4 linked regions of the Homo sapiens genome follow. The protein of the gene in region 1 interacts with the protein of each later gene in a biochemical or structural test. Each region holds a gene or a part of one and is shown in the gene's direction. Other genes may lie near its edges.

The links.
Region 2: the proteins of HNF1A (region 1) and SIRT1 form a complex in vitro, tested with the Homo sapiens proteins (one study listed by BioGRID).
Region 3: the proteins of HNF1A (region 1) and RNF14 form a complex in vitro, tested with the Homo sapiens proteins (one study listed by BioGRID).
Region 4: the proteins of HNF1A (region 1) and MYOG form a complex in vitro, tested with the Homo sapiens proteins (one study listed by BioGRID).

The regions. Positions count from the first base shown.
Region 1 is NC_000012.12:120,979,712-120,988,629, forward strand, and holds part of HNF1A (hepatocyte nuclear factor 1-alpha), read left to right. Parts: intron 1-8,918. UniProt on the Homo sapiens protein: Transcriptional activator that regulates the tissue specific expression of multiple genes, especially in pancreatic islet cells and in liver. Binds to the inverted palindrome 5'-GTTAATNATTAAC-3'.
Region 2 is NC_000010.11:67,915,656-67,918,890, forward strand, and holds the end of SIRT1 (NAD-dependent protein deacetylase sirtuin-1), read left to right. Parts: intron 1-609; coding exon 610-938; 3' UTR 939-2,735; downstream 2,736-3,235. UniProt on the Homo sapiens protein: NAD-dependent protein deacetylase that links transcriptional regulation directly to intracellular energetics and participates in the coordination of several separated cellular functions such as cell cycle, response to DNA damage, metabolism, apoptosis and autophagy.
Region 3 is NC_000005.10:141,983,457-141,990,792, forward strand, and holds the end of RNF14 (E3 ubiquitin-protein ligase RNF14), read left to right. Parts: coding exon 1-96; intron 97-1,346; coding exon 1,347-1,477; intron 1,478-4,276; coding exon 4,277-4,334; 3' UTR 4,335-6,836; downstream 6,837-7,336. UniProt on the Homo sapiens protein: E3 ubiquitin-protein ligase that plays a key role in the RNF14-RNF25 translation quality control pathway, a pathway that takes place when a ribosome has stalled during translation, and which promotes ubiquitination and degradation of translation factors on stalled ribosomes.
Region 4 is NC_000001.11:203,081,456-203,091,105, reverse strand, and holds MYOG (myogenin), read left to right. Parts: upstream 1-5,093; 5' UTR 5,094-5,144; coding exon 5,145-5,615; intron 5,616-6,377; coding exon 6,378-6,459; intron 6,460-6,532; exon of another isoform or gene 6,533-6,734; intron 6,735-7,074; coding exon 7,075-7,196; 3' UTR 7,197-7,977; downstream 7,978-9,650. UniProt on the Homo sapiens protein: Acts as a transcriptional activator that promotes transcription of muscle-specific target genes and plays a role in muscle differentiation, cell cycle exit and muscle atrophy.

The DNA.
Region 1 (8,918 bases):
CTACATCCCCATCCGCTGGCGGACTCCCCGTCTCCTGGAGAACTGGGTGGGTCCTGAGCTCGATGCCTCCCCTCTCCTCAGCAGAGCTGACCTAGTTACTAATTACCCATGTGCTTTATTATTTCTCTTTTGTTTTATAAATTTATAAATGGCAAAAGGCTCTGATAAGGTCTGTGATCATTAACTTGTAGGAATGGTGGCCTGGAAAGATCTGGGCCAACCCACCTCCCACCTAGTGGGGGTGGGGGATGGGGGTGTGGGGGAGAAGGAAGGATGGCCTGGGGGCTACAGGGGCCACCCCTCCCCAGCGGCTCCCTGACCTCCACCCTACAGCGCCTGCTTGAGGAGGTTCACTACTTCCTGGGCGCTGTGCTGAGGTTTCACAGGAATAATTTCCCTTCATGGTGAGGAGTCCTGGGCAGAAGCTATTGGTGACTCTGCTTCACAAATGGGGAAACTGGGGCTTAGAGCCGGGAAGGAGCTAGACTAAGTTCACCAAACTGAGGCCCCAAACCTACTCTGTTCGGTGCTCTCAATTGCTATGACCGGGGACCAGAGGCCTGCAGGGGGTGGCCAGGGAGTCAGAGAGAGACCGAGCCCCAAAGATGCTCCAAAGGGGCCCATCTCTTTTCTGTCCAAGGTCCTGATCCCAGCTGGGGTGGGGGAGGGCTGGTGGATTCCTGCTTTCCCAGAGGCCTCAGGGAGCCTCCCGAGGGCCTGGACAGGGGGCAGGGGAGCAGTCAGGGCCCCCTGACTTGGCAGGAAGAGGAGGGCAAAGGACTCCAGAGCTGCAGGGGAGGGGCAAAGAGTCAGGCATCCCAGACCCAGGGCGAAGGCAACCTGACGGGGTGGGGCTGGGCCTGACCTGCCCAGGGCCCCAGATGGGACTGGGGGCTTTGGGGTGAGGGTGGGGGCAGGGGATGCTTTCTTACCTGGCTGAGTGAGCTCTCTCGGTCAGCAGCCCCCTTTGGTGGGATGGTGGGGTTGGGGAGGCTTGATCCACAGCATTTGAAGGGGAAGCAGAGGTCAAAGTGCTTCCTAGGGACCAGCAGAGACCTGGAAGCTGAGGCAGAGAGTGTAGAGAGAGGCCATTGGGGGAGATGGACAGAGAAGCTGGGAGAAGCAGAACGGAGGAGCCAGGGGGGCGGGGGCTCAGACCCAGCTGGGAGAAGGGGCACGGGAGAGAATGAGGCGCCCCAAGCTTGCAAGGAGGCTGGAGTGCTTCCCGCCTGCCCCGATTGGGTTTTCTTTAATGCTAACAGCATGCTATTTACTTTCCATTTAAATTTGAGATGTTGCTATAAATTATCAACCAGCTCCTTGTTCCTGCAGAGTTTATAACTAACTACCTGGGTTACTTATTGTTCAGGTAACAAAAGGGATCGGAAAACGCCCTGAGTGAAAAAAGTGGGGCCTCCAGCGTCAGGGTCAGGAAAGGAGCCAGGGAGAGAGGGGCGGGGGACCCCTATTGAAGGCCTGGGCCATTGGGGAGGTTGAGGCTGGGAAGACGGTACAGAGGCAGAATGTCTAGTAGAAGCTGTTTCCCGGGAGAAGTCAGTGTCTGGGAAGAAGCCGGGGTGGGTCCTGGGTCCCAGGCCTCCCTGGGGTGCCCCATGTTGGTGGCCACAGCAGGAACCTGAGCTCTTTCTTCAGATCTCCCCCTTAGCTCCCTGAGTGACCTTGGGAAAGTCTGTTCCTCTCCTTCTGCCTCAGTTTCCCTCCCTGGCCAAGGAATAAAGTCCAAACTCCCTGCCTTGGTTTCGTTCCCCTCCCTCCACCCCACCAAATTCCTGGATCTCTTCCCAGGTCTTTCTCTTCCTCTCGGCCTTTGCTGCAGTCATTTTGGCTTTGCTGTTCCTCAGTACCCCAAGCCAATTCCCACCCCAGGGCCTTTGCACGTGCTCTTCCTGCTGCTCAGAACCTCTTTCCAGATCTTCCCATGGCCGATTCCTTCTCCTTCAGCTCCCTGATTGCTCCATCCAAAAGGGGGCCCCACCCCCGTCACTCTCTTCCACTACTGTTGTTCACTTTCTCTGGTTCCCTGTCAAGACTTGTGATCATCTGATTTGTTTGTTTTCTATCTCCTGCCATGAAAATAGAAGCTCTTCAAGGACAAGGCCCGTGTTGCCTTATTTACCACTTGTACCCACATCCTGCCCAGTGGCTGATGCACAGCAGGAATGAGTGAGTGACTGGGATTGTCTGAGGCCCTGAAGATATCTGCTGCCCTGTTGGTCAGGGCCCAGCAGCCTGAGACGTGGCCAAGGGAGAAACTGGGACCCAGAGTTCCTTCCTGGGTGTCCTCCCGGGTCCTTTCTGTCCCTGATCAGCTCAAACCCCAGCGTGTTTCTTTTTTGTTGTTGTTGTTGTTATTTTTGAGACGGAGTCTCACTCTGTCGGCCCGGCTGGAGTGCATGGCGCGATCTCGGCTCACTGCAAGCTCTGCCTCCTGGGTTCACGCCATTCTCCTGCCTCAGCCTCCCGAGTAGCTGGGATTACAGGCATGCACCACCACGCCTGGCTGATTTTTTGTATTTTAGTAGAGATGGGGTTTCACTATGTTGGCCAGGCTGGTCTCAAACTCCTGACCTCAGGTGATCCGCCCGCCTCGGCCTCCCAAAGTGCTGGGATTACAGGCACTCAGAGCCACTGCCCTCAGCCTTCAAACCCCAATCTTGAAGTATTCTGATCCTGCCCATCAGGCAGCATCAGGGCACTGAGACTCAGGAAAACAGTAGCCACGGCAGGAGGGGGGGGGGACAGAGGATCTGACGTCCCCAACAAAAGCCAGACTGCCTGCATCCTAATCCTAGCTCTGCCCCTTTCTAGCTTGAGCAGGTGATTTTATACTTCTGAGCCTCAGTTTCGTCTGCAGGGTAGAGATGACAATAGCCCTTGTCCACAGGGTTAAATGGCATGGCACTTGTAGAGTAAACATGTAGTAACTGCAATATACAGCAGTTATTATTAGTGATCCCATTTTACAGATGAGCAAATTAAGGCTGAGAGAGGCAGTGCCTTACCGAACGAAACTCTTCCAAATGACTGAAGGCAAGCCAGGACTTGGACCTGGGTCCTCCTACCTCACGCTCCATACAGCAACCTCGAGGTCACACTTTCCCCTCCCCAGTCATTCCTGCTGTTTAAGTTGACCATCAACTCACTTCCATACAGTGCTTTGGAGTTCACAAAGGGCTTACAAAATGCGCTAAGCTCATTTTTTCCTCCTCCCCATCTCTGAAGTCTGAAATATCATTAGCCCCATTTCACAGATGCGGAAACTGAGGCACACGGAGGTTAAGCAAAGAATCAAGGCCAGGTCTAAAGCCCCCACACTGAGAAGTCAGCTCCCCTCCAGATGTGGAGATGAATACCACAACCTTGCATGCCCTGAAACCCCAGGGGCCAGAGGGCAAGAGGCTCAAAGCCTTGGACATCCGATTGACCCTGGAAAGGGTAGGAGAGAGAGGAGGAAGATGTGGGCGGGTCTTCACTTCTCCTGGGCTCTGCTGTGTGGGGCCAAGGGTCTCCAGGGCTGCATTGTTAAGATGATGATGATGACAATATTATTCCACAAATTCAGCACTTACTGTGCACCAGGCATTGCCCTAAGTTCATCCTCCCTATTTGAAGCTCATTTAATTTTCCCAGTAGCAGTGTGAGGTAGGGGTGGATTTACCCCACGTTACAGGGCAGATGTGGGTCATGCAAGAGCACGCGTGGCTAGGTCACAGTGGTGGGATTTGAACCCACATTGGTTTGACTCTCAAACCCATTAGAGTCAAAGCAGGAGATGCCTGGAGACTTGTCCTCTTAGTTCTTTCCTTTTTCTTTCTTTCTTTTTTTTTTTTTGAGATGGAGTCTCACTCTGTTGCTGGGGGTGGAGTGCAGTGGCGCAGTCTTGGCTCATTGCAACCTCCGCCTCCCGGGTTCAAGTGATCCTCCTGCCTCAGCCTCCTGAGTAGCTGGGACCACAGGCATACGACACCACACCCAGCTAATTTTTGTATTTTTAGTAGAGACAGGGTTTCACTGTGTTGGCCAGGGTGGTCTCTAACTCCTGACCTCATGTGATCCACCCGCCTCGGCCTCCCAAAGTGTGGGGATTACAGGCATGAGCCACCACGCCCAGCCTTGGCCTCTTAGTTCTGAGCTAGGACAGTTGGAGAATCTGCCCTCAAAAATAGTCAGGCCCTTGAAGACTCTGTGTGTGTGTGTGTGTGTGTGTGTGTGTGTGTTTGTGTAAGAGACACACAGAGAGACAGAAGAGAGAGAGTGATAGCAAGGGAGTGGGGGGTAGGGAGAGAGAGACATCGATTCAGTAGGTTCTAGAAAAAAGTGGCACAGGTGGCTTCTCCCAGAAAAGGGAAAGACATGCCCTCTTGGTTCTCTGACTCCTAACTGGCATTTAAAATTCACTTTTTTGTTGTGGATTTTTTGCCCAACTCTACTAGGAATTGTTTAAAAGTGGAACGTTCGTATCAGCTCACTTTAACAGTTTGCTTTCCATTTTCACATTCAAAAGCCTGTCTTCGGTTTCTAAGGGTTGCACATGTATTTGTGCAGGGTGGCTGGCCTTTGTTTTATTTTCAAGTTCAGCTTAAATTTGACCTGGCATGAGAGAATGAGAATGAGAGAGAGAGAGAGAGAAAGAAACAGACAGACATGGAATCAGATGGACAGGGGCACATAGAAAATCTTTGGTTTGAGCCCAGGAGAGGCTCTCAAGAGGTGAGAGGAAGACTGACCCTATTCTCTTTGTGGGAGAGAGAAGGGAAGGAGGGAGGAAGGGAGGACACAGGAGGACATGGCACAGGAGGGTGATGGCTGCAGATGGGGGAGGGGAGGCATCAGGCAGCCTGGCTCTAGGATCAGATAAACATGTTTGCCACAGAGCACCAGGCTGGACTTTGTACTGCCCTTCCTTCTGAGCTCTGACTGGCACTCAGCAAAGCAGGGAGATGAAGGAGAGAGGATCCTAGGAGCCCCGGAAAGAAGGGAGAGAGAGAAGCTGGGGAGAGGCCTGCGGGGGTGGGGTGGTCCTGGCAACATGAAATATTTTTGAGTCCCAACTAGATCACCTTGCACAAGTGACTGCACCTTTCTGAGCCTCAGTTTTCTCCTCTGCAAAATGGGCACACCGTCTACTTCCTAGGGTTATAAGATGTAAGTGGCCAGTCCTCAGCACGGTGCCTGGCTCACAGTAAATCCTCAAGAAACATGAGTTCTCAGACTTTTTTTTTTTTTTTTTTGAGACAGGATTTCACTCTGTCGCCAAGGCTGGAGTGCAGTGGCGCGATCACAGCTCATTGCAGCCCCGACCTCTCGGGCTCAAGAGATCCTCTTGTCTCAGCCTTCTAAGTAGCTGGGACTACAGGCTTGTGCCACCACACTTAGCTAATTTTTCTATTTTTTGTAGAAACAGGGTCCCACTATGTTGTCCAGGCTGGTCTCAAACTCCTGGGCCCAAGGAATCCTCCCACCTTAGCCTCCTGAGGAGCTGGGACTACAGGTGTGCACCACCATGCCTGGCTAATTTATTTTTTTTTTTATAGAGACAGAGTCTCACTATGTTGTCCAGGCTGGTCTTGAACTGCAGGGCTCAAGTGATCCTCCCACCTCGGCCTTTCAAAGAGCTGGGATTACCACCATGAGCCACCATACCCAGTTTACAATTCAGTTTTAAATATTATATATGCCAAGGTGGGAGGATCGCTTGAGCCCAGGAGTTTGAGACCAGCCTGGCCAACATAGCAAGACCCTGTCTCTATGAAAAAAAAAAAATAGAAAAAAGAAGAAAAAGTACAAAAATTAGCTGGGCATGTTGGCATGTGCCTGTGGTCCCAAGTACTTGGGAGTCCGAGGTGGGAGAACCAATTGAGCCCAGGAGTTTGAGGCTACAGTGAGCTATGATCACGCCACTGTGCTCCAGCCTGGGAGACAGAGCAAGTAGCCTCTAAAAAGAAAAATAAATAAATAAAAATAAATATTGGCTGGGCACGGTGGCTCACACCTGTAATCCCAGCACTTTGGGAGGCCAAGGCAGATGGATCACCTGAAGTCGGGAGTTTGAGACCAGCCTGGCCAACATGGTGAAACCCTGTCTCTACTAAAAATATAAAAATTAGCTGGGTGTGGTAGCGCACACCTGTAATCCCAGCTACTCGGGAGGCTGAGGCAGGAGAATCGCTTGAACCTGGGAATCAGAGGTTGCAGTGAGCTGAGCTCGCGCCACTGCACTCCAGCCTGGCCACAGAGCAAGGCTTTGTCTCAAAAAAAAAAACTAAATAAAAATAAATATCATGTATGCATATATAGTATATATTATGTAATTTACAAAGTACACAAGGACAACAGAGAAAACTGTCCTTCTCACTCCCATCCCCAGCACCCCGTTCTCCTCTGGAAGGAACCAGAGTCCCCAGTTCCTTGCGTGCCCTCCGGTATTTTACACGTGCACAAATATGTAGAAATCCTCTTTTACCTCACTTCAAATTATTCATAAGTAGCAGCACAGCAGACACACCAGATAAACTCTGCTCCACCTGGGCACACAGAGCTTCCTCAGCGGGGTTTTTTCAGTGGTTGCATTGAACAGATGCACCTCCATTTAGTTAATCAGTATCCTTTTGCTGGGCTCCTTGGTGGCTTCCAATCTTTTGCTATGGCAAGCAACGTGGCAAGGAATTGCCTTCTACTTGTGCCATTTGTCACCTGTGCCAATATTAAAAGCCACAAATTCTAGAAGCGAATTGCTCAGCGAGGCAGGGGAAAGCACAGGCTTTGGAATCACGCAGACCCAAGTTCAAATCCCAGTCTGCCTGTTTCAGTGCTGCTGTATTGAGCTGTATTTATCTGTAACTTTTTGTTTGTTTGTTTGTTTTTTGAGACGGAGTCTCACTCTGTTGCCCAGGCTGGAATGCAGTGGCGCGATCTCGGCTCACTGCAACCTCTGCCTCCCGGGTTCAAGCAATCCTCCTGCCTCAGCCTCCCGAGTAGCCGGGATTACAGGCACCTGCCACAATATCTGACTTATTTTTTATTTTTATTATTTTTTTCGTAGAGATGGTTTTCTCCATGTTGGCCAGGCTGGTCTTGAACTCCTAACCTCAAAAGACCCGCCCACCTTGGCCTCCCAAAGTGCTGGGATTACAGGTGTGAGTCACTGCACCCAGCCTATCTGTGACATATTGGTAATATAAGTTCAGGAGAGGGAGAGAGAAAGAGGCAGGGATTGAGACAGAGCAGGAGAGGAGGAGAGAAAATTTATATGGCTCAGGCAGTCTGATCCCTTCTGTTCCCCCACAGGGAGACCCACAGCAGAGACATGACTCACAGGTGGCATCAGGTCCCTTTGAGTCTCTCTGGTGGGAGAATCTCAACCCACAGAGTAGGATTCCAGTGTTCACATGCATTTTTGGTACTATGAGGCCTCTGAATGTCAACCCTGTCACCTGAGACTCTGTTGAAAAACCAGCCGCGGCCGGGCGCGGTGGCTCACGCCAGTAATCCCAGCACTTTGGGAGGCCGAGGCAGGCAGATCACAAGATCAGGAGATCGAGACCATCCTGGCTAACACGGTGAAACCCCGTCTCTACTAAAAATACAAAAAAATTAGCCGGGCGTGGTGGCGGGTGCCTGTAGGCCCAGCTACTTGGGAGGCTGAGGCAGGAGAACGGCATGAACCCAGGAGGTGGAACTTGCAGTGAGCCGAGATCGCGCCACTGCACTCGAGCCTGGGTGACAGAGTGAGACTCCATCTCAAAAAAAAAAAAAAAAAAGAAAAAGAAAAGAAAAACCAGCCTCCTGTTCTGGTGCTGCAGGGAAACAGGCCTGGCCACAGCCAAGGGTGCAGATTTTCAGGAAGCATTTTTAAAAATATATATATATATATATACACATATATATATATACAGAGAGAGAGAAGCCACTGAGGCCCACAGAATTTGCATCATTTTATTCCTTGTCCAAGGTCACAGGACAAGCAGAGTCCCACCCACCTGAAAGGATTCAGTTCTAAGACAGCCTTTAGGGCAAAAAGTCACAAAGTTGATCTATCTATCTATCTATCTATCTATCTATCTATCTATCTATCTATCTACGTGTTTGCACCCTAATCACTGGCAGTAAATGCACTTTTTTTCTTTTCTTTTCTTTTTTTTGAGACAGGGTCTTGTTCTGTCACCCAGGCTGGAGTAGGTGTAAAATTGGAGAATCCATATTTCTTTCCTTGTTTTCAGATTTAATGCTTTCCTTTTTCCAGCAGGTCTCCTTCGTCCATCCATCCATCATCCATCTACCCACCCACCCACCAATCCATCCATCCATTCATCCAACCATCCATCCATCCATCATCCATCCACCCACCCACCCACCAATCCATCCATCCATTCATCCAACCATCCATCCATCCATCATCCATCCACCCACCCACCCACCAATCCATCCATCCATTCATCCAACCATCCATCCATCCATCATCCATCTACCCACCCACCCACCAATCCATCCATCCATTCATCCAACCATCCATCCATCCATCATCCATCCACCCACCCACCCACCAATCCATCCATCCATTCATCCAACCATCCATCCATCCATCATCCATCCACCCATCTATCTGTCCATCCACTCTACCCTACCATCCATCCACCAGTCCATCCATCTATCCACCAATTCATCCATCCATCCACCCATTCGCCCATCCATCCATCCACCCACCCATCCATCCATCCGTCCATCCACCCATTCATCCATTCATCCATTCACCCATCCATCCATCCACATATCTTCATCTGTGTTGTGTGTCTGTGTATCCATGTTTCTAAACCTTTATCTGTTCCAGTGTCTGTATCCATAGGCCTGTGTCCACGTTTGTCATGTGTGTGCGTCTACAAGTCTCTGTCCTCATGACC
Region 2 (3,235 bases), on another chromosome or scaffold:
ATATTTTAGGTTTATAATCAGAAAAAAGTTAAAATAGTTAATGAAGATGCTTTAAAAGCCTGTGTACTTTAGAGAAGCTACTTAACACAAATTGGGTATCTAATGTAGGCTGGGCTGGATACTTCATTTTCATCAAATCTTTTTAAAATAATTGGTGAAATAACCTTTATTGAATATGGTTTTCTACATTTTTCACACTTCCCTCCTTCATAGGGTTGTGAAAATTTATTTCATATTCTAGATGAGGAAATTGAGGCACAGAGGTACACTTACAAAGATACAATAAATGGCAGAACTAAGATTTGAACCCAGGACTAAGTGTATTGCTTGTATTTATTTAATTAATTAATTTTTAAGAGACAGGGCCTCACTCTGTTGCCTAGGCTGGCCCTTGAACTCCTGGGCTCAAGCAGTCCACCTGCCTCAGCCTCCTGAGTAGCTGGGACTGCAGGCACACCATGCCTCCCAGTTGTTTTTAAACACTAATAGTAGTCTTTCATAAGGACACTTATAATAAAGGCAGAGCTGGAACCCACACTTCATTCCAGACTGCTCAGACTGAGTTAGTGTTAGAAAACTGAAAGTAACATTTTTATTACTGTATTTCAGGTAATCAGTATCTGTTTTTGCCACCAAATCGTTACATTTTCCATGGCGCTGAGGTATATTCAGACTCTGAAGATGACGTCTTATCCTCTAGTTCTTGTGGCAGTAACAGTGATAGTGGGACATGCCAGAGTCCAAGTTTAGAAGAACCCATGGAGGATGAAAGTGAAATTGAAGAATTCTACAATGGCTTAGAAGATGAGCCTGATGTTCCAGAGAGAGCTGGAGGAGCTGGATTTGGGACTGATGGAGATGATCAAGAGGCAATTAATGAAGCTATATCTGTGAAACAGGAAGTAACAGACATGAACTATCCATCAAACAAATCATAGTGTAATAATTGTGCAGGTACAGGAATTGTTCCACCAGCATTAGGAACTTTAGCATGTCAAAATGAATGTTTACTTGTGAACTCGATAGAGCAAGGAAACCAGAAAGGTGTAATATTTATAGGTTGGTAAAATAGATTGTTTTTCATGGATAATTTTTAACTTCATTATTTCTGTACTTGTACAAACTCAACACTAACTTTTTTTTTTTTAAAAAAAAAAAGGTACTAAGTATCTTCAATCAGCTGTTGGTCAAGACTAACTTTCTTTTAAAGGTTCATTTGTATGATAAATTCATATGTGTATATATAATTTTTTTTGTTTTGTCTAGTGAGTTTCAACATTTTTAAAGTTTTCAAAAAGCCATCGGAATGTTAAATTAATGTAAAGGGAACAGCTAATCTAGACCAAAGAATGGTATTTTCACTTTTCTTTGTAACATTGAATGGTTTGAAGTACTCAAAATCTGTTACGCTAAACTTTTGATTCTTTAACACAATTATTTTTAAACACTGGCATTTTCCAAAACTGTGGCAGCTAACTTTTTAAAATCTCAAATGACATGCAGTGTGAGTAGAAGGAAGTCAACAATATGTGGGGAGAGCACTCGGTTGTCTTTACTTTTAAAAGTAATACTTGGTGCTAAGAATTTCAGGATTATTGTATTTACGTTCAAATGAAGATGGCTTTTGTACTTCCTGTGGACATGTAGCAATGTCTATATTGGCTCATAAAACTAACCTGAAAAACAAATAAATGCTTTGGAAATGTTTCAGTTGCTTTAGAAACATTAGTGCCTGCCTGGATCCCCTTAGTTTTGAAATATTTGCCATTGTTGTTTAAATACCTATCACTGTGGTAGAGCTTGCATTGATCTTTTCCACAAGTATTAAACTGCCAAAATGTGAATATGCAAAGCCTTTCTGAATCTATAATAATGGTACTTCTACTGGGGAGAGTGTAATATTTTGGACTGCTGTTTTCCATTAATGAGGAGAGCAACAGGCCCCTGATTATACAGTTCCAAAGTAATAAGATGTTAATTGTAATTCAGCCAGAAAGTACATGTCTCCCATTGGGAGGATTTGGTGTTAAATACCAAACTGCTAGCCCTAGTATTATGGAGATGAACATGATGATGTAACTTGTAATAGCAGAATAGTTAATGAATGAAACTAGTTCTTATAATTTATCTTTATTTAAAAGCTTAGCCTGCCTTAAAACTAGAGATCAACTTTCTCAGCTGCAAAAGCTTCTAGTCTTTCAAGAAGTTCATACTTTATGAAATTGCACAGTAAGCATTTATTTTTCAGACCATTTTTGAACATCACTCCTAAATTAATAAAGTATTCCTCTGTTGCTTTAGTATTTATTACAATAAAAAGGGTTTGAAATATAGCTGTTCTTTATGCATAAAACACCCAGCTAGGACCATTACTGCCAGAGAAAAAAATCGTATTGAATGGCCATTTCCCTACTTATAAGATGTCTCAATCTGAATTTATTTGGCTACACTAAAGAATGCAGTATATTTAGTTTTCCATTTGCATGATGTTTGTGTGCTATAGATGATATTTTAAATTGAAAAGTTTGTTTTAAATTATTTTTACAGTGAAGACTGTTTTCAGCTCTTTTTATATTGTACATAGTCTTTTATGTAATTTACTGGCATATGTTTTGTAGACTGTTTAATGACTGGATATCTTCCTTCAACTTTTGAAATACAAAACCAGTGTTTTTTACTTGTACACTGTTTTAAAGTCTATTAAAATTGTCATTTGACTTTTTTCTGTTAACTTACATTGTTTAAGGTATATAATTTTTAAGTCTTACAGAATTTGTACAGCTTCGAATGCTATAGTATTAGATGCTTTCTTTCTCATACTACATTTCTTCATTTGGTTTATTACATTAGTCTCACCAGACCAGTACTTGCAAAACCCTGATGGTGCTGATCGTAGCAGGTGATGCATCACCACCAAGCATTTCAAAAACTATTTCAGCCATTCTAGGCTAGAGGCCTGAGCAAGTAAAACATGGAGAAAAGGCAGGGCAGGGCCTAAGAAGGATGTGACATGTCCTATGATAAAGGACCAGGAGTTTGGGATTTGAGAGAGAACAGGAAGTGGTGGATAGTGAAAATCCATCTGATGCAAAGGCTGGGTTAACTGAAAATCTGTTCTGGGATGCTAGGTCTTTCAAGTCTGAAGACTGCAGACCACATTTGGTATCAACTTTCTGAGGCTGACCTGAGAACCTACTTAAGCCATTAAAGGTTTTGAGGGCGAAAGTATTACTGA
Region 3 (7,336 bases), on another chromosome or scaffold:
AAGAGAGTGATTCAGAAGGCACTGGAAGAGATGGAAAGTAAGGAGTGGCTAGAGAAGAACTCAAAGAGCTGCCCATGTTGTGGAACTCCCATAGAGGTAAATGTTTTGGGACAGACTTGGAGGCCATCAGACTTGCAAGGATGTTATGATTACCTTAAGAAGCCTTACTAGTCAATTTTATGACTTACAAAACACATGCTGGTATTATTACACCTTCTTACGTGGAAGGTGGAAATTTCACTATTAGATCTTGTTATCGACCTTAAATGTTTGTAGACTTCCCTTTTCAAAGTATTTGCTTACAGTGACCATTGTTCTCACATTGTATCCACCTCAAAATTGAATGGGTTGTAAGGAGGGCATACTAGAGCTATGGTCAACTCTTACCTCATCTATGTGATTAAAAAAAATCAAATCTGATCTCTCAGAACTATTTATCCTGGAATGCTGCACACCTGTTTAAGATACACTCAGGAATTAATTTGAGTCAAAATAATTAGACAGATATATTGCTTCTTGACAAAAATCTTAATATGTTTTAAAATCAAAATACATCTTAGCATTTGATTCTATTGTTCTAATCTGTTATGTCTGAACTGAACATAGTGGGCTCCAGTTAAGGAAACTAGGACTATATGTAATCACTTTTTTTTTTTTTTTTTTGATACTGAGTCTCTCTTGCCCAGGCTGGAGTGCGGTAGTGCAATCTCAGCTAACTGCAATCCCCGCCTCCCAGGTTCAAGGAATTTTCATGCCTCAGCCTCCCGAGTAGCTGGGATTACAGGCGCCAGCCACCACACCTGGCTAATTTTTGTATTTTTAGTAGAGACAGGGTTTCACCATGTTGGCCAGGCTGGTCTCGAACTCCTGACCTCAAATGACTCGCCCACCTTGGCTTCCCAAAGTGCTGGGATTACAGGCATGAGCCACCACACCTGGCCATATAATCACTTTTGACATACCTTAGCCCTATGACAGAGTGGAGGACTTGGTACCAAATATTTACTTAGATTTCTGTAAAAATTAAAAACCCACACGTTACATCCAAACATTTTAATATTAATCTAACTACATTTTCCAGTTATACTTGTGTGATTTTTATCTACTGCTTGTCAGAAGAGATTGTGCCAAGTAACTAATTGTAGTAACACTAGCTATTTTCTGTATTTTACTTCTAATGCAAAATAGAAAGAATTACATAGTCATCAGTGTGTTACATTGATATCTCAACCCTGCATAAGAAAAGGGAGAGGACCAAGACAATGTTGTACTGAATCATTTTGGCATGTGCTGTCTCTTCTGCTTTTACAGCCTTGATATTTTTCTCTTTCTATCCTTCCCACCAGAAATTAGACGGATGTAACAAGATGACATGTACTGGCTGTATGCAATATTTCTGTTGGATTTGCATGGGTTCTCTCTCTAGAGCAAACCCTTACAAACATTTCAATGACCCTGGTTCACCATGTTTTAACCGGTATGTATACACAGAATTCCTCAGGCTCACCAGCAATTTTTGGTACTTGATTTGCAGACCACAAATCCAGTGTTTTATTTAAGTACTTGGACTTATTTAGAGAATTCTCTTACATGTTTTCCCCTATAAAGGAATTTTCATATTATTTTCTCAAAAATGAGTTTTATAATGAGACTTATACACCATCTGGAAGTTTTTATAGTGAAAGTTTTCAAACACAGAAAATTTGAAAGGATAGGACTATGAATAGTAGGATACTTTCCACCCAAATTAACAGTTGATAGTACTTTGCCATATTTGTTCCCTTAACATTTTTACTGAACTACATGAAGTTGGAGTTATGATAATGCTTCAACTCTAAATATTTCCACGTTTCTCCTAAGATAAGGAAATGCTTCTACATAATGACAGTACTTTTAAAAAACTTAATGATAGTGGCATACTATTATCTAGTAAACAAACATATTTGAAACTTCCTAATTATTTCTGAAAATATCTTTTAAAGCTATTTGATTGAACCAGAATCTGAACAAGTTCAGTCATTGTATTTGGTTCTATCTCTTTAGTCTCTTAATACAGAAAAGCTTTGGCCCACCTTTTTTTTGTGTGTGTTTTGTGAACATTCACTTTTTTTTTTGTTGAGTCAGAGTCTCGCTCTGTCGCCCAGGCTGGAGTGCAGTGGTGCCGTCTCGGCTCACTGCAAGCTCCGCCTCCCGGGTTCATGCCATTCTGCCTCAGCCTCCTGAGTAGCTGGGACTACAGGCGCCTGCCACCACGCCCGGCTAATTTTTTTGTATTTTTAGTAGAGACGGGGTTTCACCGTGTTAGCCAGGATGGTCTCGATCTCCTGACCTCGTGAGCTGCCCGCCTCGGCCTCCCAAAGTGCTGGGATTACAGGCGTGAGCCACCACACCCAGCAAAACATTCACTTTTTGAAGAGTCCAGGTCAGTTATCTTATATAACGTCTTACCTTCTAGACTTTTATTTGTCCATGGTGTCCTTTAGCTTGTTTCTCTTATTTGCTATAAACTGGAAGTTAGGTCTAGACTGAAGCTTGATTCGATTTAGAATAACATTTTTTATGCTGATACTTCATGAGGAGTGATGTGTATTCCGTATTGGATCACATCAAGAGGTCCATGATGTCCCTCATTAGTGTGGTGCTCATTTCTACAGTTTGCTTTATTGTAAAGGCAAGTTTTCCATTTTGTTATTAGGAAGTAATCTGTGGGGTGATTCCTTGGCACAATGTGAATATCCTGTTCTCCAAGAGCTCTCCACTTTCAGCATCAGTTGATGATCTTTGTTAAGAGGTGTCTGTTAAGTAAACACATTGGTATTGTGAAACTGTAAGAGAAATTGAAGAAACAAGCCCTGCCATGAACTATTGGAAATCTAGTGTTGGAAATTGCATAAGTTGTAGATAACATAAGGAAAGGAAGACAAATTGACAGCTACAAAACATTCTACAAATGGAGGGTGCAAGGACTGTGAAGATAGAATGGAGTGATGAGCATGTAGTAGTAATAATAGTGTCTTGAAAGGGTTCAGTTTAAATTGCCTGACTTCCCCAGTCTTGCCTTATTCCATGTATTGTATACGCTGAGTATCAGTTTTGTGATACCTATCCCTCATTATTGTTTATCCTTGGCCCTGGAGAATTTGTCTGGATTCTAAAAGGACTGTTTTGTTCGTTTGTTTTAATTTGGAAAGGAGAGCTTTATTTCTCATAAAGAGTTGAAGCCGGCAAGGTGGCTGTTATGACAGGTTGGGAAGCATAGCCTTCAGCCAGAAGCTGGAAACAGACACTCTAAGGATGGGAAGAGGAAGACAGGGATTTATGCCCTACAAGATAGCCAGATATACATATTCAGTAAGGTATAGGAGGAGTCATGAATATTTATGAAAGGAGAAAAACGCTGCATGTGCAGTTGAGCTTCATTACCCTTCAGGGGACCCATGTTCAAAAAATGGTGGCATTAGCATGATCTCTGGGGGAGTTCTCTGATATCAAAAGGTGAAGCAGAGAACACGAAAACCTCAGTCCACATCCTCCATAGACTGGCTAGAACCACTCCATGGTCAGTGGTCTATTGGCAGGAAGAAATGCTGGTCGGTTTTTGTGCCAAAACTGCAGAAGGGAGGGGCAGCATCAGGCAGTTGGTTGATATCAGCGGTGGAGCAAGTCTTCCCAAAGGGTTGGTTTGAACCCTTAGGGAAAGAAAGCCTAATGGTGGTCAGTGAGGGAGGGGGGTATGACCAGGTGTGTCTGGCCTCCCATCCCATCATGGCCGGGAACTGTTTTCAGGGTTTCTCTGGGGTTCCCTTGGCCAGGAGAGGGTCTGTTCAGTTGGTTGTGGGGCTTAGGGTATCATTTTTATTTCTCATTTTCCCCTTTTTGGCTGAGATTTGCCAGAGGCAGCATTGATGGTCAAACTTATTTTGTCCCATATCATTGCTGGAGTGGTGTGGCTAACCTGCCTCGCCTCCATCTAGGCCCTCAGTGGGACCCCTATGGCCAAGGGACTTAAGGCCAAAAGACAGCCAATTAAATCTTCTAGGCCAGTGGGAATGGAGCTGGACAAGTACTCATCCACCTTAAATGGGCCATTCTTAACTAACTTTAGGGTAGATTGTTCAGAGGGACCCATATTTCAGCCCTCCTCAGTGCAATGATTAAAGGAGAAGAAAAGATGTACAAAGATGTTATAAGAGTACAAAAAATATTTTTCAGCGGAGAGGCAATTTATATTGTTTCGTTCAAGTGTATAAAAATGTACCTTTTTTAATGCTTCCAGGCTGTTTTATGCTGTGGATGTTGACGACGATATTTGGGAAGATGAGGTAGAAGACTAGTTAACTACTGCTCAAGATATGGAAGTGGATTGTTTTTCCCTAATCTTCCGTCAAGTACACAAAGTAACTTTGCGGGATATTTAGGGTACTATTCATTCACTCTTCCTGCGTAGAAGATATGGAAGAACGAGGTTTATATTTTCATGTGGTACTACTGAAGAAGGTGCATTGATACATTTTTAAATGTAAGTTGAGAAAAATTTATAAGCCAAAGGTTCAGAAAATTAAACTACAGAATATTAAATATTATAATGTGCCCAAAGCTCTGAATAGTTAAAAATTAAATATTTATTTTCTTCCCCAAGCTTTAGGTAAGGAGAAGAGGGGTCAAGAGTTAAACTTAGAGACCCTTTGTCTCTGAGAAGCATCCTTCTAAGACATTCTGTTGGAGTTCCCTCAGTACTATTCCTTACAACTGGAGTGGGTAGAAGCCTTATGAAAATTATACTGAGAACCTGATCTCGTTTACTCCATGTTAATCACATTCCTACCAACCTAAATTTCTGCCAAGTCAGTTCTCTTTGGAGGAAGCCCATTACTCCGTAACTGACTGGATGGTCCAGTGTCATTTTGATCTGCTTTTCAGAATGGAAATTTATAATATAAATATATGTTTTAATACCACAAACACTGTGGGGCACTTGATATTTATTAGTGGTGTATATGGTCCACTGGTTTCAGGCCAAATCTAGAATTTAGTGATACTGGCTCAGAAGAATTTAAGTTCTATTCAGCCTTCCTGGGTGTTAGAACCTAGATTCAAAATGGCTTGTCTTTGCTACTTTTGTTCCACATTCTCTCTCTTTACCTTTGCCCTACCTTCTGTTTGTAAGGATGATTTTAATATTAATTCCAGGAACACATGTTTTTATTTCCTCTGCTGGAATAGGAGAAAGCTTAATATATTCCCAAGCTGAATGTTCTTGAATTATATCTGCATTTACCACTGTATATGCATATAGTGACAGTATAACCTGTCTATACTACAGTAGTTCCAGTCCTAACTTTCTGAATTATTTTTAAAGATCTTCTCTAACAAGCTATGGGAATTTGGCTTCATACTCTTTCTTTGCAACAGCAGTGTTCTGGGTGATAATTTTGAATTGATACCTGTTCCTTTTTCTGGGTTTTGTTGGCTTTTTGAAAAATTGTCTTTCCTTATCATTGGTGGGAGGCTTGGTAGCAAAGTAACATTTTTTGGAAAAGAGGACAGAAAAATTGAACTACAGCTTGAGAACGTATTCTTTTTTTCCTACTTTGTTATTGCAAATTGAGGAATCACTTTTAACTGTTTTAGGTGTGTGTGTCCAGAGTGAGCAAGGATTATGTTTTTGGATTGTCAAAGAGGATGCTTAGTCTTAAAATAAAAATAAATTTAAAAATCATCTTATAATTAGAACAGAGTTGCTGCTATTTGTTCTGTCACCAAGGCAACTAATCACATTTTAAAACTGTTCGGCATATAACATATTCTTAAAGTAAGAAAAAAAAGGTCACAGAATAGCATCTCTTTTACCTGGGCTTGTGACTGAGCTTAGGTTTTAGGGCCCATATTTTGTTTAAACCAGATAGTTTCATGGTCTTCCATTCAGGACATTTTGTGTAAAAATTGAGGTTAATTTGCTGGGCACAGTGGCTCACGCCTGTAATCCCAGCACTTTGGGAGGCCTAGGCGGGCGGATCACGAGGTCAGGAGTTCGAGACCATCATGGCTAACACGGTGAAACCCCGTCTCTACTAAAAATACAAAAAATTAGCTGGGCATGGTGGCAGGCGCCTGTAGTCCCAGCTACTCAGGAGGCTGAGGCAGGAGAATGGCATGAACCTGGGAGGTGGAGCTTGCAGTGAGCCGAGATAGCGCCACTGCACTCCAGCCTGAGCGACAGAGCGAGACTCCTTCTCAAAAAAAAAAAAAAAAAAAATTGAGGTTAAAGAATAAATTAAAGATAAGAAATGGAAATTAAAATGATTTGTTCTACAGTATATACCTGAGAAGAGTGATTTCTGTGATCAAAGAGTTCAATTCAGATTTATTCAGAAAGAGCTACTCAGAAGCTCTATAGTTCGTGAGCTACTTGATATTTTCTAGAGATCATTTTATGTTAAGCTGTTATACATTGTTGATGATGTCATAGAAGTAGGAAAGAAGCCTTTATAATACAGTTTTATGAAAGAAATGGGAGCCTTTTTTCCCATTTATGATATTAAAAACAACACAGGTATTTGGTGTTTAGTCTCAAAAATTTGTTTGGTCACCTTAGTGATTCTTAGGTACAAAGTCTTCATCACTCAATTTTAACAAAGAAAATAGGGCTTATAAAGTTATACTTTTGAAGCATGAGTTATGAGCTAATTTTAAGATGTATAGTTTTGGTAGAGTACTTTTGTCTCAGTAAAATGAAAGATTTGGGTAACTCCCCAAATGCCCTGTAAAACAAATGGGTTTGTGGAAGGTTGTGGTGTCAGCAAAATATATGATAGAATAAAGAGTTTTGTACCTACCTTAATTTCATGAAAGCCTTTTTTTATGAGTGGGTTGAGATTTGCCATAAATTAGTATGAATTTCATGGGCCTTTTTTCTTTTTGAGACAGGGTCTCACTGTCACCCAGGCTGGAGTGCAGTGGTGCGATCATAGCTCACGGCAGCCTTGAGATCTGGTCTCAAGCAATCCTCCCACCTCAGCCTCCTGAGTAGCTGCGACTGCAGGCACATAGCACCATGCCCAGCTAATTTTTTTTTTTTCTTTTTAGTAGAAATAAGGTCTCGCTATATTGCCCAGGTTGTGAACTCCTGAGCTCAAGTAATGCTCCTGCCTCAGCCTGCCAAAGTGTTGGGATTTACAGGCATGAGCCACAGTGCCTGGCCTCCTGGGTGTTTTTGGGGGAGTTTGAATAGTCAGTGTCTCTTCATTTTTATATAAAAGGTTTGGGTCTAGAGCTGATAAATGAAAATAAGCTATCAAATAACTTATTTATTTATTTATTTGAGATGGAATCTCCC
Region 4 (9,650 bases), on another chromosome or scaffold:
TCCTGGCTCTGAGCATCAGATTCCAGGCAGGGACGGGATTTCCCAGTGGTCATCCGATGCTCAGTCCTCCATGGAAACAACGTGTGGCTTCAGAGGCCTGGTGGAGGGGGGACCCTCCCTTCCTCCTCACATCTCAATCCTGGCATCTGCCTCCAAATCTCCCCTGTCTCAATCCCTCAGGCCTCTGCCTGGCACCTCCAGCCCACTCTCTCTCTCACACCTCTCCTGTATCTTCTTTTCATCTCTCCAGCAGTACCTCTCCTGATGTCTCTCTAAACCCTCCATTCAAACTCTCCAACCCCTCACTGTCTGCCTACTTGTGGCCCCAGGCCCACCGGGAAATATCTACTCACTTGCTGCTTACTACTTACCCTTCCTCACCTGCCAGCCTCACAGAGGGAGAGGAGGCTCTGGGATTCAGAACAGGCACCCTTCACACTTCTGACACTCATCCTCTGTACGCTTGGGCAAGTCACTTCCCTTCTCTGGGCCTCCATTTCCCCATATGTGGAGGAAGAAGGTGGACTAGTGGATTCTAGACTGCCTTGCAGCTCTGACTTTCTGTGATTCTGTGATCTGTTCTCATCTTGCTGCAAAGCTACTGCCCCACAAATAATCAATGCTGATTTGCATGTAATTTTTATGCATCTATGTCCTATTGAAATGCACAAGCATTTGCCACCCCCCCCCACCCCCCCCCACCCCCGACCTCATCCTCATCAATAATACCCAGAGACCCAGCCTAGGAAAATATATGGTGAGACCTGTTTGGAGCAGCCAGAGGCCCCCACCCTTCCAGACCCTTCTCCTTCTTGCTCCTCTATTCCCAAGCACATGAGAATCCAGAATGGAAAAATTGCTTTGATTTTAGCCAAGCACCATGGCAGCCCAGGTCAGCCCACCTGCAAAATCAGCAGGGACTAGAAGATGCTGAAGGCCAGAGGGCTGTGACTGGGTGTGCAGCAGAAGGGGTAGTAAGGAGCAGGGAGCAGGTGAAGGGGATTTCTGAGCATTTTGAAATCCAGCCGCTACCATGCAAATGACATCAGCCCAGCGTGCAAATAGACAGAATCAAGTTGAAACAGTCAGGGTTGGGGAGCCAACAATGTGGCCCTGGAGCCCCAGTAGGGGATAAGGGCTTCCTCTGGAGGGCGCAGGACTGCTGGAGGAGGAGGCTACAGTCAGGGCAGGGGGCCCTGTGTGCCCAAGCCAGCAGGGATGGGGATTAGGGCCGGACGCCCTGCTGTCAGGTTGGAGCTGATGGATTGCCGCTGGTGGCGGAGCACAAAGGCTGTTCTGTGCTTGGCACCAATGTGTTCCCATCCATCAGAGGGCAGCTTGTGGGGGTGGAGGGGTGTACAAGGGGAGGAGGACCAAGCCTCTAGATGAGGCGTCTCCACAGCTCGGCTCTGAGAGAAGAACAAGATGGGTACAGGGCCAATCCCCCCCATCAGGGTATGGACAGGTCAAAGACACCTGGGTCACTCTATCAGCTCAGACCAAGAGGGTCTGTGCCCCACATCGGGCTTTGACGTGGTCCCCAAACCACTGTACTCAGACATACACAAACACACACAGAGACAGGGATTCACAGAAACCAGGCACACAAGGTCACCCTAACCTCCCGGCTCTGCCCTCATGTTTGGTCAGAGGCAAACATCATCCAGACACAAGGCCAAATGCATGCCCAACAGAGCTTCTGCAGGCAAGCGCCGAGTCTAGGCACTGCTCTTGCCCCAGGTCAGGTCCCAGCCAGGGAACTGACACAGAGTGGGTTCTCAGTAAATATGTGTTGAGCAGATGAAGGAGTGAATTAATAAATTCCTTCTCTGGATTACGTCAGCACTTTCTCTAGCCTGCTGTTTCTACCTTGGTTAGATGACTTTGTGTACTCATTCTCCTTACTCATCAGTGAACATGCTGAAGGCAGAGAGGGCATGTCTTAGTAACCCCAGCACCTGGCACAAGGTGCTGAATGCACAGTACTTGATAGAAAAAAAAATGAATGAATGAATAAACACATTCGGGGTGGAGCCAGGTTTTCCCTCCTCCATTCCTGCTGCTGTGGTCCCCTGCAGGGCACACAGAAGTAGAAGAGAAGACAAAGCAAGAAAAGGGAATAACATTTACCAGGTGTATCCATGTGCCAAGTACCCTATCATTTAATACAGCCATTCCCCTATTGCTTGCATACTCGCCATCCTTTGCTAGCCTGAAACATGCACCCTCTCCCAGTCGAATCCATCCTCCTGCCTCTGAAGAGGTTGTTCAGACCTTCATCATCTCATTCCTGGATGACCATCACACTGTTCTGTGCGGTCTCCTTGCCTCAGCTCTCAAGTCCTTCCCTGCCCAGCTGGGCCTCCTCCCCTCTGTGCAAGTTTGTCTCAAATCACCCCCTTACCTGAACCCCAAGCTCCATACAAACAGCCTACCCAACGTCCCCTTCCCCTGCTCCCCTCTCCTCATCTGAATCCTACCAGTTCTCCAAGAGCTGGCCCAGCATGCTCCCCAAGCCTTCTGCAGAGCACCAGTCTTCAGCAGTTTTGGCTTCCCAAAAATTCCCAAAACGCTTTTGAAGAAACTACTGGTTTGCAATTGATTAAAGCCCCCATGTTTGCTGTAGAATCAACATAGCTCTCCCTTGTCTTGTAATCCAGCTTTCACATGTCAACCCATGCTCACCAACTAGACAGTAAGGTCTGGAAACCACCATAGAGCAAGCCAGCTCTGCCTCCATTTTAGAGGAAGAAGACACATTATTTAGAGGTAAGTCACACTGGATCCTGGAATAACAAAAGATGCAAATATGGGGGTTCCTATAGTGGCTTCAACATGACTTCTTTTCTCAGGGCTCATAGGACTGGAGGGTAAACTGAGGCTTTTTTTTTCTTTTTTGTTTGGCAGGGGATGTGTTAGAAATAGAGACTCTTCTTCAGCCCAGCTGGTCAGGGGAAAGCAAAGTTTAGAACCCACACAGTACCTATGCTGCTACTTTTTTTTTTTTTTTTTTTTTTTTTTTTTGAGGCAGAGTCTCGCTGTGTCACCCAGACTGGAGTACAGTGGTGCGAACTCGGCTCACTGCAACCTCCTCCTCCTGAGTTCAAGTAATTCCCTGCCTCAGCCTCCCAAGTAGCTGGGATTACAGTGCCCACCACCATGCCTGGCTAATTTTTGTATTTTTAGTAGAGACAGGGTTTCACCATCTTGGCCAGGCTGGTCTTGAACTCCTGACCTCGTGATCCACCCGCCTTGGCCTCCCAAAGTGCTAGGACTACAGGCATGAGCCACCACGCCCGGCCTATGCTGCTACTTTCTATCATGCTGGTAAGGCCAAGAACAGAATTAAGACCTCACTGCTCTCCCTCAACATGCTTAGGGTTCTTTTGTTGTCCAGCTATGTTCCCTCCTTCCCTCCATTTCCTGTCCCAAAAGGACATCAGAATTCTCCTGGCTCCCTGCTGTGAATAATGAGAGGAAGGAACACTGGTTCTTCACATGCCTCGCAGATCTCATGTTCCCTGTGAAGTCTCCCATGAGTCCCCAGCAGGGTTCCCCTTCCTCTTATTGTCCTTGCCACTGGCTTGAACTTGTCAGTTTGATCTGTCGTAGGATAAGGAGCAGGACATTAGTCTATGGGGAGGAAAAAACTGGGAACAAAGGATAAAAGATAGAGGGAGCAGATTGCAGCCCAAAGCTACACGTCAATGGAACGGGCTGTCTCCTGACGTGAGCAGAAGCTGAACAGTAGCCGCCTCGGAGGAGATTTGGGCATCAGGGGCTAGGTAGAAAGAGGTGATCACCGTTGTCTATCAGATGGTAAGTTCGAGGGCAGGGATCCTGTCTGGGGTGTCCCTATAATCCCCAGCCCTAAGACTGAGCCTTGTTCACTGCTAGTGTCTAAGGTCTGCCCACTGCATTGGAAGGAATTTGTCCTCTCAGACCCTGAGGCACCTACTGAGAGGTGACCATGGCCTGAGAGGCCTGAAGATTAAATAGTCCCTGCTCTACCTGACATTTGAGACCTGCATGATACGTGTAAAATTGATGGCTCAGACAGTAAGAGGCAGAACAACCAAGCCCGGTGGCCAAGGAGAGAGGAGATTTAAACTGAGTTTGAAGGGCTCTGTTTTTTCTACTTTTTCACCCCCGTCCACATTAATGAGCCAGGAAAATTCTGGTGTTGGAAAAAGAGTTGAGGAGGTAACATAGAAGGACAGATCAATGGTCCGGAGTGAGACAGGGAGGAGACAGGGAGCTTAGGACATCTTGACCTTGCCGCTCTGGGGAAGGTGGCAACGTGTAGGCTGTAAATTCTAATCTCTGCTCTGACCACGGCTGCTGTATTAAAGAGGAAATTTCTCTTTACCCCTGCCAAGAAAACCAAAACCCAAATAATTTCTCTTGCCTCAATTTACCCCCCCAGATGAGACCTAAGAGAACATACAGCTCAAAGCTGCTTGGGAACCCCAAAAGTGGAATCTGTTAGCTGCTCTGAGTCTTGATCCTTCTTATCCCTGGATACTGAGTGCCCATGAATGCCCAGAATCTGAAGCAGTCCCATTCTTTCCGGAGGGAAGTCTTTAAAAGAGTCTCATCGACTGATGTAGTGTGGTTAAGGTGCTGTCAGGAAGCAAGGAGATGGATAAGTTGGCTCTTAAGGCCCCTTCCAGCCTAAGCCTACCCTTCCTTGTTCCCTCCTCCCCCTATACCCACCAGCTTCTTCGGGACTGCAAGGAGACAGCAGGCAGGCCGCCCAGCTAGGAGTAATTGAAAGGAGCAGATGAGAGGGGAATGTGTCCTCCCCCAACGCCCCTGCCCCACAGGGGCTGCTGAGAAATGAAAACTAATCAAATTACACCCGACGGCCTCCCGACCCGTGCACAGGAGCCCGCCTGGGCCAGGGGCAGGCTGGCAGGGTGGGGTGGGGGCCATGCGGGAGAAAGAAGGGGAATCACATCTAATCCACTGTAAACGCCTTGATGTGCAGCAACAGCTTAGAGGGGGCTCAGGTTTCTGTGGCGTTGGCTATATTTATCTCTGGTTCCATGCCAGCGGGGAGGGTTTAAATGGCACCCAGCAGTTGGCGTGAGGGGCTGCTGGAGCTTGGGGGCTGGTGGCAGGAACAAGCCTTTTCCGACCCCATGGAGCTGTATGAGACATCCCCCTACTTCTACCAGGAACCCCGCTTCTATGATGGGGAAAACTACCTGCCTGTCCACCTCCAGGGCTTCGAACCACCAGGCTACGAGCGGACGGAGCTCACCCTGAGCCCCGAGGCCCCAGGGCCCCTTGAGGACAAGGGGCTGGGGACCCCCGAGCACTGTCCAGGCCAGTGCCTGCCGTGGGCGTGTAAGGTGTGTAAGAGGAAGTCGGTGTCCGTGGACCGGCGGCGGGCGGCCACACTGAGGGAGAAGCGCAGGCTCAAGAAGGTGAATGAGGCCTTCGAGGCCCTGAAGAGAAGCACCCTGCTCAACCCCAACCAGCGGCTGCCCAAGGTGGAGATCCTGCGCAGTGCCATCCAGTACATCGAGCGCCTCCAGGCCCTGCTCAGCTCCCTCAACCAGGAGGAGCGTGACCTCCGCTACCGGGGCGGGGGCGGGCCCCAGCCAGGGGTAAGTGGCCATCCCATCCCCCTGCCCCAAGGGGACGGGGCCAGAGGGAGGCACCTGGACAGCCTCAAGACCCCAAGAGGGGCTCAGAGGGTTGGTGCAGGTGCCAGACAGGGTCGAGGGGCTGCAGGAGCCCTTCCCTGGTCAGAGCTGGGCTATCCAGCTGACCTCCTGTGTCCTGTGTTCTTTCCAGACAAGATAAAGGCAGTGGGGAGGAAGTGCAGAAGGGGTTGGGGTGGGGAACATAGGACTGAAGAAAGATCAGGAGCAAGGCCACAGTCAGCCCAGGTGAGGGTGAGGATTAATCCCAGCGCCTGAGTCAGAGCCTAAAAGGCCAGGCCAAGTTCACCAGAGAAGACTGCTTTGCCCCCATCCTGGGTGTGGCTGAGCAGAGAGAAAACCCACTCAGTCTCATTGGAACTCCAGCAGGCCTGCACAGAGCGACCTTCACTGGGCCACAAAATCTGTCTCCATCACCCTTATCGCCAGAGTCAGGAGAACCAGGGACCCCTTTAAGCTGGTGTCCTGTGAGAGCAGAACCACCACCCAGGATGGAAGCCAGGAAGGCCTGGAAGCAGGGCCTCTGGGGTGTGAGAGGAGCTAGTTACAAAGATTCTGGGGTTGGGGATGGCCTGGGCTGGAAGGCCACAGCCTGTGGCCCACCCTCCAACCCCACCACAGGTACTTCTGCCCACTGGGACTAGGCAGAGAGAGACATCAAAGAATGGCTGTGCCCCGACCTTGGGCCTTCGCCCTGTCTTGCAGGTGCCCAGCGAATGCAGCTCTCACAGCGCCTCCTGCAGTCCAGAGTGGGGCAGTGCACTGGAGTTCAGCGCCAACCCAGGGGGTAAGTAAGGCCTGACTGGTAACCTTGGCTCCAATCCCTCAGTCCCTCCCTGGGCCAGGTTCTCCCCTCTTACCTTATTCCTTGCTCCGGTCCTCTTCCCTTGGGTCTCTCTAGGGACCTGCTGACTCCAAGGCCCAAAGGGTGGGCTGGGAGGTTCTGTGTGCCCCTGCAGTCTTGACCAGCAAAGGAGTGATAGTAGCTCCTGCAGCTCCCCAGCTGATGCCTGGTGGTTGACCTTCTCCACAGAGAGGACAATGTCCCTGCCCCAGGGGTCCCTGTGAAGTGCTGAGTCAGTGCTGCAAAACTGGGCCGAGCAAAGGGCAGGTCCAGTCTCTGGGGAGCTCCATCCTGCTCCAACTTGAGTGGCTGCTTCCAAACCCTACCTACTAGGGGAGTTCAGAAAAGAGGCGCATACACACACACACACACACACACACACACACACACACACTCACAGAGCATGGGGAAAGGCAGGGACTAGGGAGTAGAACTCCGGAGCTTTGTCATTCATCTGTCCTGGAAAACCTCTGTCACCCCAAGGGTCCCATCCTCTATTCTGGGCCTCAAGAACCCCCACTGCTCACCCAGGTACCACCTTCCCACCTCCCCTTACAGATCATCTGCTCACGGCTGACCCTACAGATGCCCACAACCTGCACTCCCTCACCTCCATCGTGGACAGCATCACAGTGGAAGATGTGTCTGTGGCCTTCCCAGATGAAACCATGCCCAACTGAGATTGTCTTCCAAGCCGGGCATCCTTGCGAGCCCCCCAAGCTGGCCACAGATGCCACTACTTCTGTAGCAGGGGCCTCCTAAGCCAGGCTGCCCTGATGCTAGGAAGCCAGCTCTGGGGTGCCATAGGCCAGACTATCCCCTTCCTCATCCATGTAAGGTTAACCCACCCCCCAGCAAGGGACTGGACGCCCTCATTCAGCTGCCTCCTTAGAGGAGAGGGCATCCCCTTTCCAGGGAGGTAAAGCAGGGGACCAGAGCGCCCCCTCGTGTATGCCCCAGCTCAGGGGGCAAACTCAGGAGCTTCCTTTTTATCATAACGCGGCCTCTAATTCCACCCCCCAAGTGAAACGGTTTGAGAGACGCAGTGCCCTGACCTGGACAAGCTGTGCACGTCTCCTGTTCTGGTCTCTTCCCGATGCCAGTGGCTGGGCTGGGCCTGCCCTGAATTGAGAGAGAAGAAGGGGAGAGGAACAGCCCTCTGTTCCCAAGTCCCTGGGGGGCCAAACTTTTGCAGTGAATATTGGGAACCTTCCAGTGGTTTTATGTTTTGTTTTGTTTCGTGTGTTGTTTGTAAAGCTGCCATCCGACCAAGGTCTCCTGTGCTGAAGTTGCCGGGGACAGGCAGGGAAAAGGGGTTGGGGCCTCTTGGGGGTGATTTCTTTTGTTAACAAAGCATTGTGTGGTTTTGCCATTGTTTTGTATTTTTTTTTTTTTTTTTTTTTTTTGCTAACTTATTTGGATTTCCTTTTTTAAAAAATGAATAAAGACTGGTTGCCAGAAGAGTGTCGGTGATGATGCAGAGGGAGGGAAATGACTGACAGCCCTGCCCCTTCCCACTGAGCAGTCCAGACACACCCTAGTGGGTGGGGCTCCACAGCGCTAAGGGCCTCATCTTGCTGGTGGTCACTAGGCACTGGGGACCCCTGCTCTTTTCACCATGATAAAGGAAATCGAGCATGTCTGGACCTCAGTCTAGGTGGAGACCAGATTCCACAGACATCCTTGTGGGACACGGAGGACAACTGGCTATGACTATACTTCAAAGCCACTGCTCACAGGCTGCTGTGCTCTGTGTTATGTCCCAACAGGTCCGCTGGTTTCAGTTAACTGAGCACCTCGTAAGCCCAGTGCTCAGCCCACAGCCAAGGTGCAGAGCTAGAAGTTGTGGTTTCCCTTCCCTAGTCCCCACCTCTGCCCTGGTGTCACAATACCAGGAGCCCTGTAGAGAAGTGGGAGGTGAGGAAGGGGGATCAGACACTGTCATTTCCTTGCGGGCCAAATAGCATGGCCCCTCCCCATTCTCCTCCATTCCCTTCAGGCCGAAGGGGATTGTGGTTCCTGCTTGCAGCTCCCAGCATGAAGGAGATTCAGATTTAGCTCGGGGAGGGTAAAGGGGTCCACAAAGAACAATCGAAGAGAAGCTGGGGTTCTCTTCATTTGGGGTGCTATTTTCAAACATTAGCTTCCTGAGGTTAGAAGGTGGGTGGGAAATTGAGAACAGAGATTTTTGGGTAGACATTACATGAGGATTAACTGGGGAGTTAACAGGAGCTAGAATTCAAACGGAACATGGACATCTACTGAAAACTTTATTAATTCCAACTGCCTGGGGCTAAGTTCATCAGATTTATTGCAAATTATAAGTTTCAGAATCATCACCGAAGCAGGGATTCAGAGCATGGTACGTTCCAGCCCTGCTTAATCCTTCGGGGCCCTTGACAACGGACTTAACCCAGTGTTGCCTGAGGCTCTAGCGACCACCCTGCACCAGCTCCGGGCTCAGCTGGGCCATCTCTCCCACACCCACCCTCCTGACCTTACTGCTGGAGAGGAGAGTTACCACTGTGCCCCCCGAGTTTCTTCAGAAACTCTGCCTAAGGAAAAGAATCAGAAGAAGCCTCTGGAGGCTCCCAGAACTCAGGCGAGGGTGCAGAAGGGAGGGTCTCCCCCACTGCCTGCTTGTCCCAAACCAGTCAGGCAGGGCTTATTGGGAATTGCAAATTGGCCTACTCTGCTCCCATTGGTGGGATTTTCTTCTTTTCAAGTTGGTATCACTGAGTTTAGTCTTTCCCCCTTGGAGGGGCTGGAGAGGAAGACCAAGGTCATTTCCATGACTCTTAGCCCTGATTCACTGCCCTGGGGAATGAGGAGGGCAACTGGGTGGGCTGCAGTGCCTTGGCTCTGGAATCTACATTCACTCCCTTATTACCCTCCGAAAATACTCAGAACACATTCATGGAGGATCGTCTCCCTTCAAGTTCATTTCCTCTGCCCCTGGCACCTCCCACACTCCCAGGGTGGAAACCACCCTCTCCCCTGCAGCTATGACCTGCCCATCCCTTGCCCTCCTTCTTACTGGGATAAGAAGGGCTGGCCAAGGAAGGCACTCAGCTCTGCTGAAGGACAGGTTCTGGGGCTGCTGGATATATTTTTTAAGTCTGCTCCTCTTCAGT